Linked DNA regions of Homo sapiens. Each later gene encodes a partner of the first gene's protein in a complex. Each region holds a gene or a part of one and is shown on either strand. Other genes may lie near its edges. A codon is read from its position in the direction of its gene.

The links. Proteins that work in one complex are often made in the same cells at the same time.
Region 2: the proteins of RBBP4 (region 1) and LIN9 are in contact, whole or in part, in a crystal structure (PDB 7N40), measured with the Homo sapiens proteins. Residues at the interface, in NP_005601.1 of Homo sapiens: Ala11, Glu14, Arg15, Val16, Ile17, Asn18, Glu19, Glu20, Tyr21, Lys22, Ile23, Trp24, Lys25, Lys26, Asn27, Pro29, Phe30, Leu31, Tyr32, Asp33, Thr37, Ala39, Leu40, Glu41, Trp42, Pro43, Glu75 (codon at 3,799), Pro87 (codon at 3,763), Asn88 (codon at 3,760), Asp89 (codon at 3,757); in NP_001353174.1 of Homo sapiens: Phe107, Arg108, Asn111, Leu112, Lys114, Leu115, Lys117, Ala118, Lys120, Trp121, Ile123, Tyr124, Glu125, Trp126, Phe127, Tyr128, Leu135, Phe136, Asp139, Asn140, Asp141, Phe142, Cys143, Leu146, Arg156, Lys157, Leu158, Thr159, Arg160, Val161.
Region 3: the proteins of RBBP4 (region 1) and MECOM are in contact, whole or in part, in a crystal structure (PDB 6BW3), measured with the Homo sapiens proteins. Residues at the interface, in NP_005601.1 of Homo sapiens: Ala39, Leu40, Glu41, Trp42, Pro43, Leu45, His71 (codon at 3,811), Thr72 (codon at 3,808), Ser73 (codon at 3,805), Asp74 (codon at 3,802), Glu75 (codon at 3,799), Glu126, Asn128, Arg129, Glu179, Tyr181, Asp198, Val229, Glu231, Asp248, Glu275, Asn277, Phe321, Glu395, Asn397; in NP_001353395.1 of Homo sapiens: Met1, Arg2, Lys4, Gly5, Arg6, Ala7, Arg8, Lys9, Leu10.

The regions. Positions count from the first base shown.
Region 1 is NC_000001.11:32,654,160-32,661,283, reverse strand, and holds part of RBBP4 (histone-binding protein RBBP4), read right to left. Parts: intron 3,858-7,124; coding exon 3,712-3,857; intron 1-3,711. UniProt on the Homo sapiens protein: Core histone-binding subunit that may target chromatin assembly factors, chromatin remodeling factors and histone deacetylases to their histone substrates in a manner that is regulated by nucleosomal DNA.
Region 2 is NC_000001.11:226,230,657-226,236,164, forward strand, and holds the end of LIN9 (protein lin-9 homolog), read right to left. Parts: intron 2,868-5,508; coding exon 2,688-2,867; intron 2,538-2,687; coding exon 2,440-2,537; intron 1,951-2,439; coding exon 1,845-1,950; 3' UTR 501-1,844; downstream 1-500. UniProt on the Homo sapiens protein: Acts as a tumor suppressor. Inhibits DNA synthesis. Its ability to inhibit oncogenic transformation is mediated through its association with RB1. Plays a role in the expression of genes required for the G1/S transition.
Region 3 is NC_000003.12:169,086,713-169,093,712, forward strand, and holds part of MECOM (histone-lysine N-methyltransferase MECOM), read right to left. Parts: intron 6,391-7,000; coding exon 6,246-6,390; intron 3,525-6,245; coding exon 3,288-3,524; intron 2,472-3,287; coding exon 2,288-2,471; intron 1-2,287.

The DNA.
Region 1 (7,124 bases):
CCATTCAACCCAGCAATCCCATTACCGGGAATATACCCAAAAGAAAAGAAATTGTTCTACAAAAAAGACACGTGCACTTGTATGTTCACTGTAGCATTATTCACAATACCAAAGATACGGAAATCAACCCAAGTGTCCATCAATGGTTGACTGAATAAAAAAATTTTTTTGGCTGAGTATAGTGGCTCATGCCTATAAGCCCAGAACTTTGGGAAGCCAAAGTGGGTGAATTGCAAGAGCCCAGGAGTTTTCAGACCAGCCTGGGCAACGTGGTGAGACCTACTCTCTACAAAAAATACAATGGAAATCAGCTGGGCATGGTGGCGCATGCCTGCAATCCCAGCTACTCAGGACGCTGAGGCAGGAGGACTGCTTGAGCCCAGGAGGCAGAGGTTGCAGTAAGCGGGGATTGTGTGACTGCACTCCAGCCTGGGTGACAAAGCAAGACTCCGCCTCAAAATAACAACAAAAACTCAATCATTTAGGAAAAAAAGGCTGGATTCTGATTCCATACCAAATACCAGAATGACAAAAGTTTTAATGGCCCAAACATAAAAGTCCCAGAAGACAACAATAGATGAACACATACTTTATGAAATCATTGAATGGGAGGTCTGAGGTGGGAAGATTGAGGCCAGAGTTCCAGATCAGCCTGAGCAACATAGTGACATGCCATCTCTTAAAAAAAAAAAAAATTAAGTTATCTGGGTGTGGTGGTGGGCGCCTGTAATCCCAGCTACTTGGGAGGCTGAATCAGGAGAATAGCTTGAATCTGGGAGACGGAGGTTGCAGTGAGCAGAGATTGCGCCACTGCACTACAGCCTGGGCGACAGAGCCAGACTCCGACTCAAAAAAAATAAATAAATAAAATAAAAATCCAGGTATGGTGGTGTATGTCTGTAGCCAGAGCTACTTGGGAGGCATAGGTGGGAGGATCGTTTGAGCCCATAAGGAGGCTGCAGTCAGCTAAGATCATGCCAGTGCACTCCAGTCTGGGTGACAGAGCAAGGCTCCATTAAAAAAGCAACTTACAGCTTCTAACCAATAACAGGACTTAAGATTTTAAGTTAAACAAGAAAATGATCTGCACCTATTTATTGGGTGGAGAAGGTATAATTTACCTTATATGAAGAGGTAACTCAAAAGGAAATACGGGCAAAAAACATAAATAAACAGGAGATGTAAGCTCAACATCACAAATAAAAAAAGCAATGTAAACTTGAGAATGAACTCTACTGAGTCCAGTGTTGGCAAAGGCATGGAGAAACAGACATAAATACATACGCTGTTGTGGGACTTCAAATCTTTTTCTGGAGTGCAACTTAGCAGTATCAATTATATTAAAAAACGGTCCTGCCCTTTGATACAACATTCTACTTAGAAAGTATTTCTATAGCAAAACTATGCTTTTGAAGTCAAAAAATTAGAAACCATCTAAATGTCTATCAGTAAGGAATAGTTAATTATGGTCTACTATACAGCCATCAAAAGGAGGCAGGTCTCCATCTACTAACAAAGATACATGCCCCAGATATATTAGGCCATAAAAGCAAATTATGAACCTATATTGCATATTCTATACCTGGCATACAAAATTACTCAACATATTTGTTGAATGAGTGATCCAATACACAGGATAAATCCTTCAGAAAACAATACATCACAATACATCCATTTAAGTGATATCCAGGGGAAAGGTTTTTCTTTTGTTTTGTTTTTGAGACGGAGTTTCCCTTTTTTTTTTTGCCCAGGCTGGAGTGCAATGGTGAGATCTCGGCTCACTGCAATCTCTGCCTCCCGGGTTCAAGTGATGCTCTTGCCTCAGCCTCCTGAGTAGCTGGGATTACAGGTGCGTGCCACTGCACATGGCTAATTTTGTATTTTTAGTAGAGACAGGGTTTCACTATGTTGGCCAGGCTGGTCTTGAACTCCTGACCTCAAGTGATCCACTGGTCTCAGCCTCCCAAAGTGCTGGGATTACAGGAGTGACTCACCGCACCCGGCCAGGGAAAGGTTTATTATATGGGAGAAGGGGTGCGTTTTTTACATTGTGTGTAAAATTACATATATATGTAAAACCACATATATGTGTGTGTATACATTTATATTGTGTGTGTGTAAAATTACATATATTTTATATATATAAAATTTATATGTATATATAAATTATATATATTACACACAATATAAATATATACACATGTAGTTTTACATATATAATTTATATATTTATATATAAATATAATACATTTATATTATCTAAAATTATATATAACTATATTTTACACACAATATATACACGCATGTAGTTTTACATATACATACATATATACGTATGTTTATATATAAATATAACATTTATATTGTGTAAAATTACACATATAATTTTACACACACAATATAAATATATACACACACATATATGTAGTTTTACAATTTATCACACTACCAATCAGAGTATTTGTGCCTCAGTAACAAGAACAAAAGGCAGGAGGATCATTTGAGGTCCGGAGTTCGAGACCAGCCTGACCAACATGATGAAACCCTGTCTCTACTAAAAATACAAAAAATTAGCCAGGCGTGGTGGTGCATGCCTGTAGTCCCAGCTGCTTGGGAGGCTGAGGCAGGAGAATCGCTTGAACCTGGGAGGTGGAGGTTGCAGTGAACTGAGATCGCGCCACTGCACTCCAGCCTGGGCAGCAGAGCGAGACTCCATCTCCAAAAAAAAAAAAAGGAAAGCGTTTAAGCATTTCATGAGCAGTTAAACCCTTAGGTTATGGCCTAAAAACAGGATATAATTAAACAACTCATTGGAACTTAGTTTCTATACACATAGAGAGTGCCATGGTTAAGTCATTTCTACCACTTTAAACCTAGAAAGGGTAATTTAAGTTAGTGTTTCTCAACCTTTTTTTTTTTTTTACTATTGCTCCTCTAAGAACTCTTTTAAGAACTATTCCCTCCCCACCAGTCCCATGAAATTTTAATACCATAGATATCCTATGTCCTCTGTGCATATCTGTGCTTTAAACAATCAACCAGTAAGATTATTTACACCTACTCACATACACAAACCAATTTTCACCTCCTTAGGGGTAGTTATCTCCCGTGTTAAGAATGTATAGCAATATGGATGGGTGCAGTGGCTCACGCCTGTAATTCCAGCACTCTGAGAGGCTGAGGTGGGTGGATCACCTGAGGTCAGGAGTTCAAGACCAGCCTGGCCAACTTGGTGAAACCCTGTCTCCACTAAAAATACAAAAATTAACTAGGCGTGGTGGCGGGCGCCTGTAATCCCAGCTACTCAGGAGGATGAGGCAGAAGAATCGCTTGAACCCGGGAGGCGGAGGTTGCAGTGAGAGAAGATCGTGCCACTACACTCCAACCTAGGCAATAGAGCGAGACTGAGTAAAAAAATAAAAAATCAAGAATGTACAGCAATAATATATATTTTTGCTTCTTTCAATTGCAGAAATCCTCCCCACCAGCACCAGCTGAGAAAAGTTTATTGTGAAGGTACAGAACCAAGGATGTGTTAAGTATTTCTTCTGATACCTAAAACTCTAATATAAATATAAATACCTACCATTGCAAACTCAGGCTTTCCCTCAACCTTAAATATTGTTTCTAAAGTCAGAGTTTACTTTATCAAAGTGCACATAACAGATATGACCCACACATCTTTACTTCTTTCACCTTTAAGATTCCTACCTCCTTTCTCACTGTCGTAGTGTGACGCATCAAACTGAGCATCATCATTAGGGAGCTGCACACTGGCTATAACAAGATGGTTTTGTTCATCCGATGTGTGTGTCCCCAGGACAAGTCGATGAATGCTGAAATCTTTCCCTTCTGGTCTGTAACGGCAATATATAGTCACTGTTCAAATTAGTAACATCAGGAGACGGCGAAGTCAACAATATACATGTATGTCAAAGTCACTAATACAACCAGGTTTTAAGAGAGGGGAAAAAGTCATTAAGGGTCTTTTCTTTCTTTCTTTTTTTATAAATAGAGTCTCACTCTTTCGCCCAGGCTAGAATGGAGTGGTGCGATCTTGGCTCACTGCAACCTCTGGCTCTCGGATTCAAGCGATTCTCATGCCTCAGCCTCCCGAGTAGCTGGGACTACAAGAACCTGCCACCATGCCTGGCTGATTTTCGTATTTTTAGTAGAGACGGGATTTCACCATGTTGGCCAGGCTGGTCTCGAACGCCTGGCCTCAAATTATCCACCCACCTCAGCCTCCCAACGTGCAGAGATTACAGGCAAGAGCCACCGTGCCTGGCCAAGAGCCATATTTTCTACTTAATTACTCTGGAGAAAAAGTAAAACGTTTTATGGAATAAAATGTGAATTAACTACTCACTCACTACCAACAGGTTGGAGGGAAAGCAAACCATTGTTGGGTATGCTAATAATTTTGCTTACTAAAACTTTCATTAAAAAGGAAAGAAGGGGAAAGGGTGCAAAGAAATTGAAAAGAATGAAAAAAGGGAAAGAAGAGTAAATAACATAAACCAATTTTTCAAACATTTACTAACCGCCTATCAATGGACACATCGCTCCAAACGCGATGGAAGTACAAAGACAATTAAGACATGATTCCTGACCTCAAAAAACCTGCAGCTGGGCCAGGCATGGTGGCTCACACCTGTAATCCCAGCACTTTGGGAGGCCGAAGAGGGTGGATTAATTGAGGTCAGGAATTCGAGACCAGCCTGACCAACATGATGAAACCCGGTCTCTACTAAAAATACAAAAATTAGCCGGGTGTGGTGGCGGTGCCTGTAGTCCTAGCTACTCAGGAGGCTGCGACAGGAGAACTGCTTGAACCCAGGAGGCAGAGGTTGCAGTGAGCCAAGACGGTGCCACTGCACTCCAGCCTGGGCGAAAGAGCAAGACTCTGTCTCAAAAAACAAACAAAACAAAAAAAACCGGCGGCTGGCTAATCCCAGCTACTTGGGAGGCTGAGGCACAAGAATCGCTTGAACCCGAAAGGCGGAGGCTGCAGTGAGCAGAGATCGTGTTACTGCACTCCAGCCTGGGTGACAGAGAAAGACTACTTCCTGTCTCAAAAAAGAAAAAAATAAATAAAAGAAAGAAAATTAAACAATTTGCCTAAGATCACACAGCTACTAAGTAACAAGTATGCTGAAGTCCAAATCTGACTTCTGATATGGGAAAGCACAGTGGGAGAGAAGGCCGATTAAAACTGACTATTTAGTGTTCTGAATGCCGTCTTAAGGCATTCTGTACTCCATACTGGGTCAAGGGCATCCACATCATCTGGGAACTTGTTAGAAACGCAAATTCTCACATCTACTCCAGACCCATTGAATCAGAAACTCTAGAAGGTGGGGCACAACTAACTGTTTCACAGTACCTCCAGCTGATTATGATGCATATAAAATTTTGAGAACCCCTGGCCTAGATGGGAAAGATGCTACACAACCAGAATTCATTGGGGTTTATAAATTGACTGCCTATAAAATGGAGAAAGAGAAAATGTCAAACTAAAGCCAATTATGATGAAAAGAAATAGGAACAACAGGAGAGAAAGTTGGGGTAAGGCCTTCACGTAAGGAATAATTCCATTTACAACATGTCAAACTGGGGAAGCCAGTAAGATATACCAGGGAAGACACGGGCAGGCAGAAGAAAAATCAGGAAAAGCTCTGGAGAAGTGAGGTCTAAAGATATCAATAGGAATTCTTCTGCACAGATGTCACAGGCAAAGCTCTGAGAGCTTCTACATTACACTGAAAAGAAATGAAGAGAGATATGAACAGAAAATTGGAATTACCTGTATGTAGAAGGTTAGACAAGAACCAGAAAAAGAATGAAGGAGAGGACAGTGTTACAGAACTACAACCGTGGTTTTTCTTTCTTTTTAAAGGGGGGAAACGGATCTGGGTAAACACCAGAAAAAGAACACACACAAAAGTAAACACTGCATCAGGGCTGCTTGCTTGTAAGTAATCCTCATCTTAAAAAACAAAAACAGGGCCAGGCACGGTGGCTCATGTCTGTAATCCCAGCACTTTGGGAGGTCAAAGTGGGAGGATCACTGGAGCCCAGAAGTTAAAGAACAGTCTGGACAACATAGCAAAAAAATTTTTCAAAAATTAGCCAGGTATGGTAGCGTGTGCCTGTAGCCCCAACTATTCCAGAGGCTGAGGCAGGAGGATTCCTTGGCCCAGGAGGTCAAGGCTGCAGGGAACTCTGATCGTGCCACTGCAACACAGTCTGGGCAACAAAGCAAGATCCTGTCTCAAAAACAATTTTCAGCCAGGTGCACTAGCTCACGCCTGTAATCCCAGCACTTTGGGAGGCCGAAGCGGGTGGATTACCTGAGGTCAGGAGTTCAAGACCAGCCTGGACAACATGGTGAAACCCCATCTCTACTAAAAATACAAAAAATTAGCTGGGCGTGGTGGCGGGTGCCTGTAATCCCAGCTACTTGGGAGGCTGGGGCAGGAGAATCGATTGAACCCAGGAGGCGGAGGTTGCAGTGAGCTCAGATCATGCCACTGCACTCCAGTATGAGTAACAAGAGTGAAACTCCGTCCTCCGTCTCAAAACAACAACAACAACAAAAAACAATTCTCACATTATTTATCTAGATTTGCTAATGCAGAAAACTACTAAGATGACAGTACAGATTTCAGCCTTGGGGAATTAAGTCTTTAATTCTTGCTTTCGAAACCTAGCTAGTCATTCTATTATATTACTTGGGAAGTTTCTGAAAAGTAGGGGTTCTAGAATGTTTAGTAGGTATGGGATGGCCAATATTTGTGATCCACTAGTCCAATAAGCACAATTTAGCATATGACTATAGTAAATGTGGAATCACCATTCCAGTACACTTCTCATTAAGTACTCTGCCACAAGTTCTTTTTCTTTGAGACAGGGTGGCAATCCCTAGCTCAGGCTGGAGTGCAGTAGCAGGATCACAGCTCAATGCAGCCTTGACCTCCCAAGGCTCAGGTGATCCTCCTGCCTCAGCCCCCACTGAGGAGCTGGGACTAACAGGTACGCACCACCATGCCCGGATAATATTTGTAATTTTAGTAGAGACGGGCTTTTCACCATGTTGCCCAGGCTGGTCTGGAACTCCTGGC
Region 2 (5,508 bases), about 190 Mb from region 1:
GTTTCTACTAAAAATACAAAAATTAGCCAGGCGTGGTGGCGCGTGCCTGTAATCCCAGCTACTCAGGAGGCTGAGGTGGAAGAATCCCTTGAACCCAAGACCTGGAGGTTGTGGTGAGCTGAGATTGCATCACTGCACTCCAGCCTGGGCGACAGAGAAAAAAAAAAAGAAATGTAAAAGAAAAAATGCACAAAATACCCAATTCTAGGCAGAATATATTAAAATCAACCTTTCACTAGGTCTATACCAGGCCAAATAACTTACCTGCTTAATACCATACCACTGGATGGTATGGTAATAAATAAAATCCGTATCACTGGATGGTATGGTATGGTAATAAATAAAATCCATACCATTGGATGGTATGGTACTTCAGAGAGACTCGGTAATCTGTACTGTTTCCCCTAAAAATATAACTTAATGGAAATTACAATTCTTCAAAACTTTTTAAACAGAAGGAATGCATATTGACTTGAATTAAATGAAAATATAGAAAATAATAATTTTCATAGATCAATTTATTTAGAATTACAAATATTAAGAATAGAAGATTTATGCATTTCTTAATTAACATAACAGTTTAGCTAAATATAAACTCTGCACTAAAGTTCTGCAGTGGCACAATACCAACAAAGAATACGGAAGCCTTTTTAAACTATACAAAAATTTCAAATGGAAAATAATCTTGTTTCAGTTTTATTATACATTAACATATAAAAAGTCTCATTTTATGAGACATCTAAAGGAATTAAAACCACCTCTACAGCTATATCTTAAACTCCAAATTTGAAAAAAATTTATATTTTGAGTTTATAATATTCTATTAAAACGAAGAAAATTCCAAATACATACTTTTTACAAGATTAACATTTTAGGCAGCGTTTTCCTAAAAAAGAAAAACAACCAAAACAAGCCTTTCTTCTGCATTTCACAGCACTGGTTATTATATTTGTTTTCCTTATAAAATCTTTTTACTTTATAAATTGTGTACTGTTGGATTTTAACCAGTAATCTGGTTTAAAAGTTGTGCAAATAAACAAAAAAATATGAAAATAGTGTGTTATCATTTTTTTTTTAATAAATCTCACAACAATGCACTTTTGACCTGAACTGATGGGAAGACATGCCAAATCCATTTTTAGAAATTTAGCATTTTGCACCTTTTTTCCCCCTGTTCCTTCATTTTCTTTCAACAAACAACAAAGGTTTCTTTTATATGTTATGATAAATTAAAATATTTATTATTATAAAATGATCTACAGAACCATGTCACATTGCAAGTATATATAACATATACTTGTAAAGTCCACATTTCCCATCTATATTTCAGTGGTTTCCTTAAAACTAGGACTTCCCACACCTCATGATGTTATCTTTTGAAGACTGAGATGGTGATCAACTAAATCAAGTGGAGTTGTAATTTTCTGGATGGAATTTCCACACTGCCACCGACATGAATAAAAAGACCAGGTTTCTTCATACTCTCCATTGCAGCAGTTGTCTGCATGTGTTGCGGTGAATTCATGCACATTAAAAAAAATGGTCAATGTATTCTTCCACGAAATTATATTATGTTCAGATATTTCAGTTTAAAAATATTTGTGAATATAAACATATGTAACATAAGCAATGCTACTGCATCTGAATAATAAAAGAAAAATAAATATAATGCTGGTCAGCAATGCTGGTTTAAGAAGCAGTACAGTCTATTAAAATGCCTTATTTGGAGATTTAAATTTCCCTTGTTTTCCAGCAGTTAGGTTATTTGGTGTTGGAAGCCTATATAAAGGAAAAGAACTTCTCAAAAACAATGTCCCGTGCAGTTGGAATAATGAAATCTTTACTCAGTCTCTGTTGGTGTTATTTGCTGCAAAGGCATGTAAGTTTCCCATCTGGCTCAGGCCACTCTGAATATGTGCAACATGGATTTCTACATTATTCTGAAAGCAACTAAAGAAAGAAGAAACATGGTTAACTACTTTATTTCAAAAAATTAAGAAAAAAATTTTTAAAAGAAGACCTGAATTTTAGTTAGGAAACAGCTATGATAAATCTTAGGGAAGGAATAAATCTCCTCTAATATATTAGCCATAATTCTACTTCAGTAGTAGTTGAACAAATATGCTCTAAAGAAGCAAAGGAGCCACGGGGGGCTGGAAGGAGAAGATGAGTCTCTCACTGACTGGGGAAGCTCTACCTCTAAGCTCAACCTCCATGCTGACCCCAAACCTAAATATATGTCCTGATTTCTTTATATACAAAATCCATGTGAAATTTCTATTCTGTCCATAGGCTGGATATAAGTGAAAAGCTCTTACAAATATATTTAACGGATAATAATATATGAGTACTTCACAAATATGCATAATTCTTAAAACCTGGACTGAAAATTACTATGAACTTCACATTAAAATGATTAGAGTATACCTAACGAATTACCTGATATTAGAAGCGTCTATTGTACTCTTGATATCATTTAATGAGTCTGTAAGTGATTTGAATTCAAAGGAATTCAGGTCTCCTCCTTCTGCTAGACACTAAAGGGAAAAAAATTTCAAAATTTAATTGCATTATAGCTCAAATATAGTCATAAAATACCTGATATAATCAATGAATTAATTTCTTAGCAACAAATTAGCGTGGGTTGCTTTGTGTCAAATTAAGAAAATATTTTCTCTAAGATTTACCTTAATTTGTAACAAAATAGCTGTAAGCCTGGAAATTAAGTCTGTCAGATTTTCATTTTCAACGCAGGGCTGTCCTGTTGAGGAATTTGCATGCCGAACAATTTCCTGTGCTTCTTCCTCACACCTGCGTCTCATATCTGTTGGCTGATCTGCAGGCTGGAGCCCCTGGTCTGGAGCAAGCTGAATACAGATGATTGAAGCATGAGACGCATGTTCGAGAAGCCATGATTATTTCTGTATGTGTTTGTGCCCTCTTTTCAGATTTTAATTTTTATAAAACTAGCATTTAAAACTAAAGTGGTACTCTTACCTTAGAAGTTTTTTTCCTTTAACAGTTTCTGATTTTCTATTTTTTGTAATTTTTAATTTTGATATAATTTCAAACTTCTAAAAAAAGTTAAAAGAATAAAACAAAGAACTCTTGATAACATTTACTCAGATTTACTGTTTATGTTTTACTACATTTGATCTGCCATTTGATCTCTGTGAATGTATAATTCTTCCCGTTACTAATTTAAGAATAAGTTGCAAACACTGTGCCTCATTACCTCTAATCACTCCAGTTTGTATTTCCTTGGTATTTTTGAAGAGTACGAGCCAATTATTTTGTGTAATATCCCCCAATGTGGGTTTGTTTGTTTCCTTATGATTAGACTGAAGTTATGCATTTTTGGGCAGAAATACTACAAATGTGGTGCTGAGTTCTCTGGCATCTTTATTAGAAGGCACGTGATGTTGACCTGTCCCATTACTGGTGATGTTCTCTTTGATCAATTGGTAAGTTAAGTGTCTGCCAGATTTCCCTACAGTAAAGGATTTCCTTTTTGTAAGTACTAAGTAGTTGTGAAGAGATACTTTGAGGCTATGTAAACATCCTATTTGTCATCAAACTTTTACCTACCAATTTTAGCATCTGTTGATGATTCTTGTCTATATCAATTATTACTATGATGGTTGCAAAATGGTGTTTTTCTCACTCTTAACACTGCTTCTATATTTATTAGTTGGCATTTTACTACAAAGTAGTTTCCCTTAAAAAATGAACTAGTATCAGTATGAACCCATACTGACATAACTTTTATTCTATGGGTTATAATCTCTTACTATATTTATTTATTCTGAAGCTCAAATTGTCCCAGATTTGGCCAGTGGGAACCCTGTCAAGCTGGCCCTTTTTGACACGTCCCCGTAATTTGGGGGCACATTTTACTTCCTTGGCATAATAAGGTGGGCCGGGCTCATCTTCTTTCTCTGCCTCAGGTCTGGAATCAGTCTCTTTTTCAAGAAGTCCTGCTTTTTTAAATTGGAGAACAGAGATAAGAGACCAAGATCTGGGTCTAGTGTGTTCTTTGCTATTAGGGTGTCTTTGCTTTTGGCTCTCTCAGCAGACATATACACTCACTTATACATATAGCATAAAGATAAAATAAACCATGAATTCATACTGATTCCCCCTATTCCCATCTAATGCCACAGGGTTCACTCTAGTCTTCCCCCTCTTCATAACTGCCTTCTTCAACAGTGAGAAACCTGGCTCGCGTTATCCTAAATTTTTTTTTTTTTTTTTTGAGACAGTCTCACTCTGTTGCCCAGGCTGGAGTGCAGTGGTGCGATCTCAGCTCACTGCAACCTCTGCCTCCCAGGTTCAATATACTTATTTGCTTCTTTGCTCAGTCCTAGAGTACACAGTAAGAGTTTCAGAACTGCTGCTGGGTGTGGTGGCTCATGCCTGTAATCCCAGTACTTTGGGAGGCCGAGGTGGGTGGATCACCTGAGGTCAGGAGTTCAAGACCAGCCTGGCCAACATGTCTCTACTAAAAATATAAAAATTAGCTGGGCATGGTGGTACATGCCTGTAATCATAGCTACTGGGGAGGCTGAGGCAGGAGAATCGCTTGAACCCCGGAGGCAGAGGTTGCAGTGAACCGAGATTGCGCCCCTGTACTCCAGCCTGGTGGACAAGAGCGAAAATCCGTCTCAAAAAAAAAAAAAAAAAAAAAGAGTTTCAGGACTGCTATGCATGCCACCAAGAGAAAAAATTCTACTAACTAGAGTTCAATGTTTATTTAAATTTTGGTTCAGACTAAAGGTATACAGTCAAAATATAAGTTGAGTATCCCTTATCCAAAATGCTTGGGACCAGAAGTGTTTTGGATTTAGGATTTTTTAAAATTTTAGAATATTTGCATTATACTTACCGGTTGAGAATCCCAAATACAAAACTCCAAAATCCAAACTGCTCCAGGGAGCATTTCCTTTGAGTTTCACTTTGGCACTCAAAAAATTTTGGACTTTGGAGCATTTCAGACTTGGGATGCTCAACCTATGCTATGTTCAAGCTATCTGAATCAGTTTTTATCCCCTTCAGTAAGTTTATGTCACTCCTTTGAAATATAGTTAGGTTCATTTATTTCTGTTTGCATTTACTTGTATTTGTTGGGGAAACAAACACTCAGAAAAATGTCATTCCTTCTTGCTCACCAACTCCTACCCCATTCCCAAATTAGTTTCTAATGTATCCTTTCTGCTTCCTTTTGAAAAATTAAGCTGATACATATACATTGTATTTCCACTTATTTCCTACTCCAAAGGTTATACTTTGGAATATGTATGTGTATTTTCGTATTTGCTTTTTGCATCTAATAACATATCCTGGAAATCACTCTGTGTCAGTAAATAGAGAACTTCCTCTCTTACAGCAGCATAGTATTCAATTGTGTGGATGTACCATAAATAGTCAGTTCCCTATGTGTGGGCATTTATGTTTATTTCTAATATTTTTTAATTACCAATAATGCTTCAATGAATAACTGTATCCTTT
Region 3 (7,000 bases), on another chromosome or scaffold:
CGGATAGAGTTTCTTGAGGGAGAGCACATGCAAAATGCAGCTACTATTGTACTGGTCAACTATTTTCAATTCAATCACTATAAAAATTACAGACTATAAAAATTACAGAATAAATATATGAATGCTTTGACTAAAGCATCTGAGCCTTTAGATTCTAGAAAATGGCAAAACAGCATATCTGCCTTTTGGTAATCAAAGGAAATAAACATTTTCATATATAAGGATCAGTGCCCAGCATATAGCTGGTAGTTAATAAATGAACGAATGAATGATATTATGAAATAAAGTGAATTTGCAAAAGGGCCTGACCATTTTCAAACTAATCTATATAACATGATCAAGTAACAAGAAAAATATGACTTAGGATTGCAAAATGCTAGTGTTTCTTATAACAGTAACAGTCCAGCTGGGTTGGGACTTTATGTCAAAATGCTGGTACTAAAATGTATTATAATTATATCCCTTATCTGTAGGTTTTCAGGCCCTTTTGCTTTCTGTCACTTCTGGCAGTTTCTGGAGTGTTTAGGTATTATATCTTACAATAAATAAGAAGCATTTTTGGTGGACTAATTAAAAGAAATTTAAAAAGAAAAAACCATGGCCAGGTGCAATGGGTCACACCTATACAAATCCCAGTAATTTGGGAGGCTGAGGTGGGAGGATTGCTTGAGCTCAGGAATTTGAGACCAGCCTGGGCAACATAGTGAAACCCCATCTCTACACAAAATTGAAAAATTAGCCTGGCATAGTGGTGAGTGTCAATAGTCCCGGTTATCCAGATGCCTGAGGTGGGAGGATCACTTGAGCCCAGCAAGTCGAGGCTATAGTGAGCCGTGATTGCACCACTGCACTCCAGTCTTAGCAGCTGAGTGAGACCCTGTCTCAAAAACAAAGAAACAAGTAACAAAAAACCAAAAACCTTGATACTCAAGTTATCTCTAATCAACAAGGATGGAAGAATGGGAAATCAAGGGTTAAAAAAAAATACTAGCCACCCCTTATGGATGTCTCTAAGTAAAAATGAAATGTCTACTCTAGCTAGTTTACCTTTAATGTTAAAAACTGGAAACTTCATTTTTATCCCCATTGAATAAAAATCCACTTACCCCTTTTACAATGAAGAAATGGTACCTATAGTCTTTAAGTGATGTTCTTAAGTTCATGGAGGTAGGCTCTAGGAGCCTCTGTAGATGGTGGCTGCTTTAACTTCAGTTGAGAAAGAACATTTATTTTACCTATTACCATACATAATATCTCAGAACTTTTTACTAAATTGAATATTATTTAATGATTTGTATTATCCCATTGACACAATGTTTTTCCCAACTTCCTTGGGATATTATTACATTTGCTGTTAAGACAAACCCAGACATCTTACCCAAATAGAAAATCATTTCCAAATGTACAAACTAATATGGTCACATTGCAGGTCAGGCCACATACAAAATGAACTAATGGATCAGGCAATTAGACCACAGTGCCCAATAAATATGGTAATAGGAAGTTTCTTTATTTTTAATTGACCTGAATGAACAATCCGGTTGAGTGTGGATGTCAAACAAAAAAGTACCGACTTCCTTTATTTTGTAACAAAAACACTGAGGCTCTTTTAATTGCTATTTATGGACCCTTAAATAGATTTATTTTTAGTTACCATAGTGCTGATACAATGTTGTAGAGCCTAATAAATTTGAGTACCATTCATTCACTCATTCATTTGTTGAATTTAAATTGACAGGTTTTATTTCCAAATCTGCCAGTAAGTTGGTGTAGACCTTTGGCAACTCACTTCCTTTCTGATCCTCATTTTACTATTAAATTACAACATGAGATGACTTGCTAATTAACTACACCTAACAATTTACTAGACATAGAAGGGGACAAAAAATAGAATTCACTTTTCAGAAAAATCTTAAAATATAATTACATTGACAAAAGTATAGACACGGAAAATGACTCTGAGGTAATACATAAATATTTGTAAACAAACATGATGAACTAACTGTACAAAAGTAAGAGAATTGCAAAGTCAAGGAAAGATAAGTGTAGGATGGGGCTTGTCATAAAATTTCTATACAGAATGCAGCTAAATTAATTGCTTTCTTGCTTAACTATTTTGGATTTGGTCATAAATACAGTAAAGATATGAACATTTTTAGAAAGGCATCTGACCCCATTTGGATTCTAAAATATTTCAAAGATAGAATATTTGCTTTTTGGTAATCAAAGGAAATGTACGTTTCATGCATAATGTAACCATGATGCTGTACTATGGGAAAATCTGTACCTGCGATTTGGACTTTCTGTGTAACGGCTGCTTAAGTTCCTCTGGCACATGGGAAGTACTAAAAGAAGACAGCTCAGCTTCAGAATATTGATTATCTTCCATTTTCCTCATTTTGAGGCTATCTGTGAAGTGCCTTATATGATCTAGAGCAGAAAGTCCACTTTTATATTCTTCCTCTTTATACCTAAAATGAACCAACGAAAAACACAGAAATTTTCTTTTCATTTGTTATCTAATCAAATCACTTTCATTTGAATCTATCTATACAACTGACAAACTTCATATTGTATCTGCAAGGTAAAGTAGCATGCATCAATTATTGGGTTTTTATAAATACTTACAAACATCATGTCTTAAAAATATATTTCTGTTAAGATTTTTAGTAACTAAAGCCAAGCATATATTTGAGATAAAGAGTTAAAGTCAGTGACACATTAGTCAGTAATAGGCAGAGACAGAATTCATATATTCATTATTTCCATTTAAAGTAAAGCTAATTATGACAATATTTAGTCAACATCCATCATGAAAATATAATAGTCCCATCAATTTAACTGTTTGGTTATTTCTTTTCATTTAAAAAGTTATCATCTATATAGATCACATATATATCTACTGAAGTGAAGTTTATCTCAATTATACTTAACTGATGACCATGCCAGATTATTGTATAATTAGATAACGTCAAAATCTCTATTTTTCTTTGAGTTTTATAGGTAGAGTCTAACAATAAATGATTGTGTACTTATGTAATTTTCATTTTATCTTTCCCACCTCAGGTTAATCAGAGTTGCACCAAACCTGATGTATTTATATGCTTGTGGATTATGTTGATAGCCACCTTATTTTCATCTATTTAAATCTGATCCACCATGTATCCCTTACTAATTCAAGTTTAATTTTTGTGATTTATAACTCACAAATTGCTTATCACAGGAGGAATTGCAACCGTACATGGATCTACTCTAGCTTAGTTTCTAAAGTCACCCAAGGTACTCACCTCACTGGGGATGTCTTGCAACTCATCTCCAGGGCACTGGTTTCTTCATAGTCATCCTCAGGGTTTCCTTCATGTAAATTACTTGTCACTGGTTCCTTTCCTGTTTTTCCAGTAATATCATTGTCTTCATCCTCCTCATCTAACAACACCTCATCTTCAACTTCTTCATCATCCAGCAAGTCTGAATTTTGACTGGTCACCAAAGCCTTTTCATCTTTAAAATGACTGCCATTCATTCTTTCAAAAGCATTAAAAAAAAAGTCCAATTGTTGGTTTCATTTTTAAAATTGTAATTTGTTCCTTTATTATGTCTTCCCAACAACAGTTTAGATTTTCAACACTTAACATCGGAAATGTTTTATTGTTTATGCTCTACGTCAACCATGAAAAAATAATGTGACTTCACAAATGGGAAGATAAAGAAAAAAATAATTGTATGATTGTTCAGATTATAAATGAAGCCTCTGGCAGAACCCGAAAAACAATCTTGGTCTCCCATTTCTTATCAGACTTTGCTTGATAATTGATATTGCTATATATATCATATAAAAAGGCACATAAGTATGTTCTCAGCACAATTTACCTAATTGCCATGTAAGTACCCACCATTTAAAATAATAGATTTCTGGAAAATTCATATCACTCATGGGCCGTAGCTACAATACACATGCCTAAAGTGACTCTAAAAGTCCAAAGACAATGTTAAAGTAGTTACCAAGAAACAACTGGTATTTACTGATACTAGATGACATTTGTGGTACATTCCACCTAACCACTCTACCCATATTTGGAAGTAATTGACAGCTCACTTATTTGTACTATTTTCAAATTATTTTTTACAGTCTGAATGTGAAATAGTTCCTTGTTTCTCAGGAAAACGCCAGGGTGGAAAAAGCTCAGGTATTACAATGTACCCCCATCACTTTCCCACATAACAAAAATGAGTATAATTTAATATTCAGATTTCCCAGGATTAAAAAATAAATAAAACAATCTTGGATGTGACAAACACACATAGTAAAAATCCATTTGACCAGAAAAAGTCATATCATTATTAAGCTTTTAATAAAAACAATCGCTTAACCTCTTTTATCAAAGAATGGTGAAAACATCTTTTGCACAGACATAAATTAGTTTCCAAACACACTGCCAACTTGCTTGCATGAGTGGATTAAAATTTTTATTTAAAAAAAAGAAAGAAAAAGTAAAAGAACAAAAAGAGTGCATGGATGAAAATCAAAAGTAACAAAAGCCAACATAATTAAGAAAATCTATTTGTTAATTAAGTTTTCAAATGTGGCAATTTACAGAGAATAAATTATTCATCAAAAGTAGCCTGGTAGGAGTTCAGGGGAAAAACTTAGATGACTCAACCTTCTTATTTCTGTGCTGTTTAGACATGCTGAAGCCAGATGTTGCAACTATACAGGCTCACAAATCGCCAATTAAAGGCTAGAAAATTTGAATAGGCATCTCAGAACCCAAATGGTGTGTTTTGTTCAACAGTTCTTATTTGCATCAAGTAAATATCATTATCAAAGTATAAGATCGTCACTGTTTCTTGCTTGTTCTTGCTACTTTGTCCTTCTGATCATCTGCTTCCTCTCTCCCTTTCACAAACAGACAGACAGACACGCACACACACACACAAATGGGCAAGTAAAGGGAAAGGTACATCCAACTGCACACTGGTGTAGTTATCAGACTTCTCAGAGACTGGAAGGGTCTTTTTTCTTGTTTTTCTTTGATACACTTTTATACAAGTTGAAAAACAGAAGTGGTCATTTTTTTTGTTATTTTAGTAAAAAATGTTTATTTGATGTTTGCCTTGAAAAAATTACATAAAATAATTAATTTTGACTTTTGATAACATCAAAAACAGAGGACACTAATCCAATAATACTTGTATGATGAAAAATAATGGAACTTTTAACTAATTTCATGTTATTTTGAAATTTACAATGTAGCATCTGAATTTAATAGGTCACTATATAGTCGTGTTCAGAAAAGTCTACTTCTCAACAATAGATATTTAATTATAGCTTACAGATAAGAAAAATTAAATCCAGTAGTTTTGGTGAAATAGTGTTTCATTAACTTCATATGCAATGTGAAGTGCTGGGTAACTGTTAAGTATTATCATTAACAGCATTAAAAGCTTTTTTAAATGAATTAAGCTATTCATGCTTAATGTTGGTGATGATAAAAGGGAGCCAGTGCATCAGGGCAGTAAAAACAAGGATGTTCATACCCACTGAAACAAACAGACCAGAATTAAATGAGTAGTCACTTAAGAGGACATAAAGTAGCAATAGAATCTTAAGAAGACTATAAAAGCTTCTATGTAAAATATATTTGGGGGAAACTCCATGGGTATTTCATATATAAATGCATACATACATATGTACTATAATATGTATATTACATATATACAGAATATACATATATGTATTTATGTATAATACAGGTATATAGAATCATATATTACCTGTAATATATATAATTTATGATGTATAATAGTAGCCACTATTGATCAGTGATTCAACTGAATCCCTGTGACGGCTTTCTCTTCTACTTCTGAAATTTTGATAACAGATTCTATTCAGCTATCAGATAGCTAAATCCTGGTAAAATTATGGGCTCTGGAACCAGAGAGCTCAGGTTGAATCCCATTGATTACTTATGTGACCTCTGACACAATGGTTTAAGCTTCAATGTCTCCATTCCTTCACTGCTAAAATTATAGTGGCTATCTCATAGGGTTATGATGAAATTAAATTAATTAACACATGTAAAATGCTTGGAAGCATTTAATGTGGTATTTAATATGTACTAAATATATACCAGTCTTTGGTGACTGAAGTAATAGTAGTGCCACAAAAGTGAGCATAGCAAGTATATTTTAAAACATGTTCATTTCAGTCGTCACAGAGTTTAAAAAGTAAAAGACAGCTTTACCTCTCCTCCACATTCCTGGGAGATTGGCTGCCATGGTTGCTGTTCCCAATGAAATTTCGAATTTCTGTGAAGTAAGCATCTTCTTTGTCATCCAGAATCGCACCTGTACTTTCCAGTTCAGAATGAGGCGACGATGTTGCTGTACCTGTGTGGAGCAGAAAGCCTTTTATGACAAAGATTATTGTTTATCTAGCAACTTATTTGGAAACTCACTCCTTATGAATTTGATCAGTGCTGTTTCTTAAAACATGCCCTATGAATATTAATAATAATAACTTTAGAAAGTCAAAGTCTCCCCAGTTTACCATAATACACATGCCCATGACGGTCCTTTGGGAATATATTGAACCACTGAAATCATGAAGTACAGTCTCGCAAAGAAGGTGCTTCTCTCACTAGCTTTTCCTTACCTCTATTGTGACATGAGAATATTTGTATTCACATAATGAGAATTTAGAGTGAGACAAATTATGAACAAGTTTTAAATAGATTCTGCCAAGAGACACTCTATATGAAGTCCTGGTTGCAGTCAACATGCCTTTTTATTTATTTATTTATTTTTTGGCTACTATGCTAAAGCATATAACAAAATACAGTTTAAAGGCACACTGAAAATTCTGCATCCTGGTTTGCTGGGCGAAGCTGTGAGTTGACTCAGAACACTCCAGTCCAGGGGTTGGTGCAGTATTAAAAGGACAATATTAGATATGCTGATTACAGGATGATCTTCCCCTTCCTTGCCTATGCACTGCAAG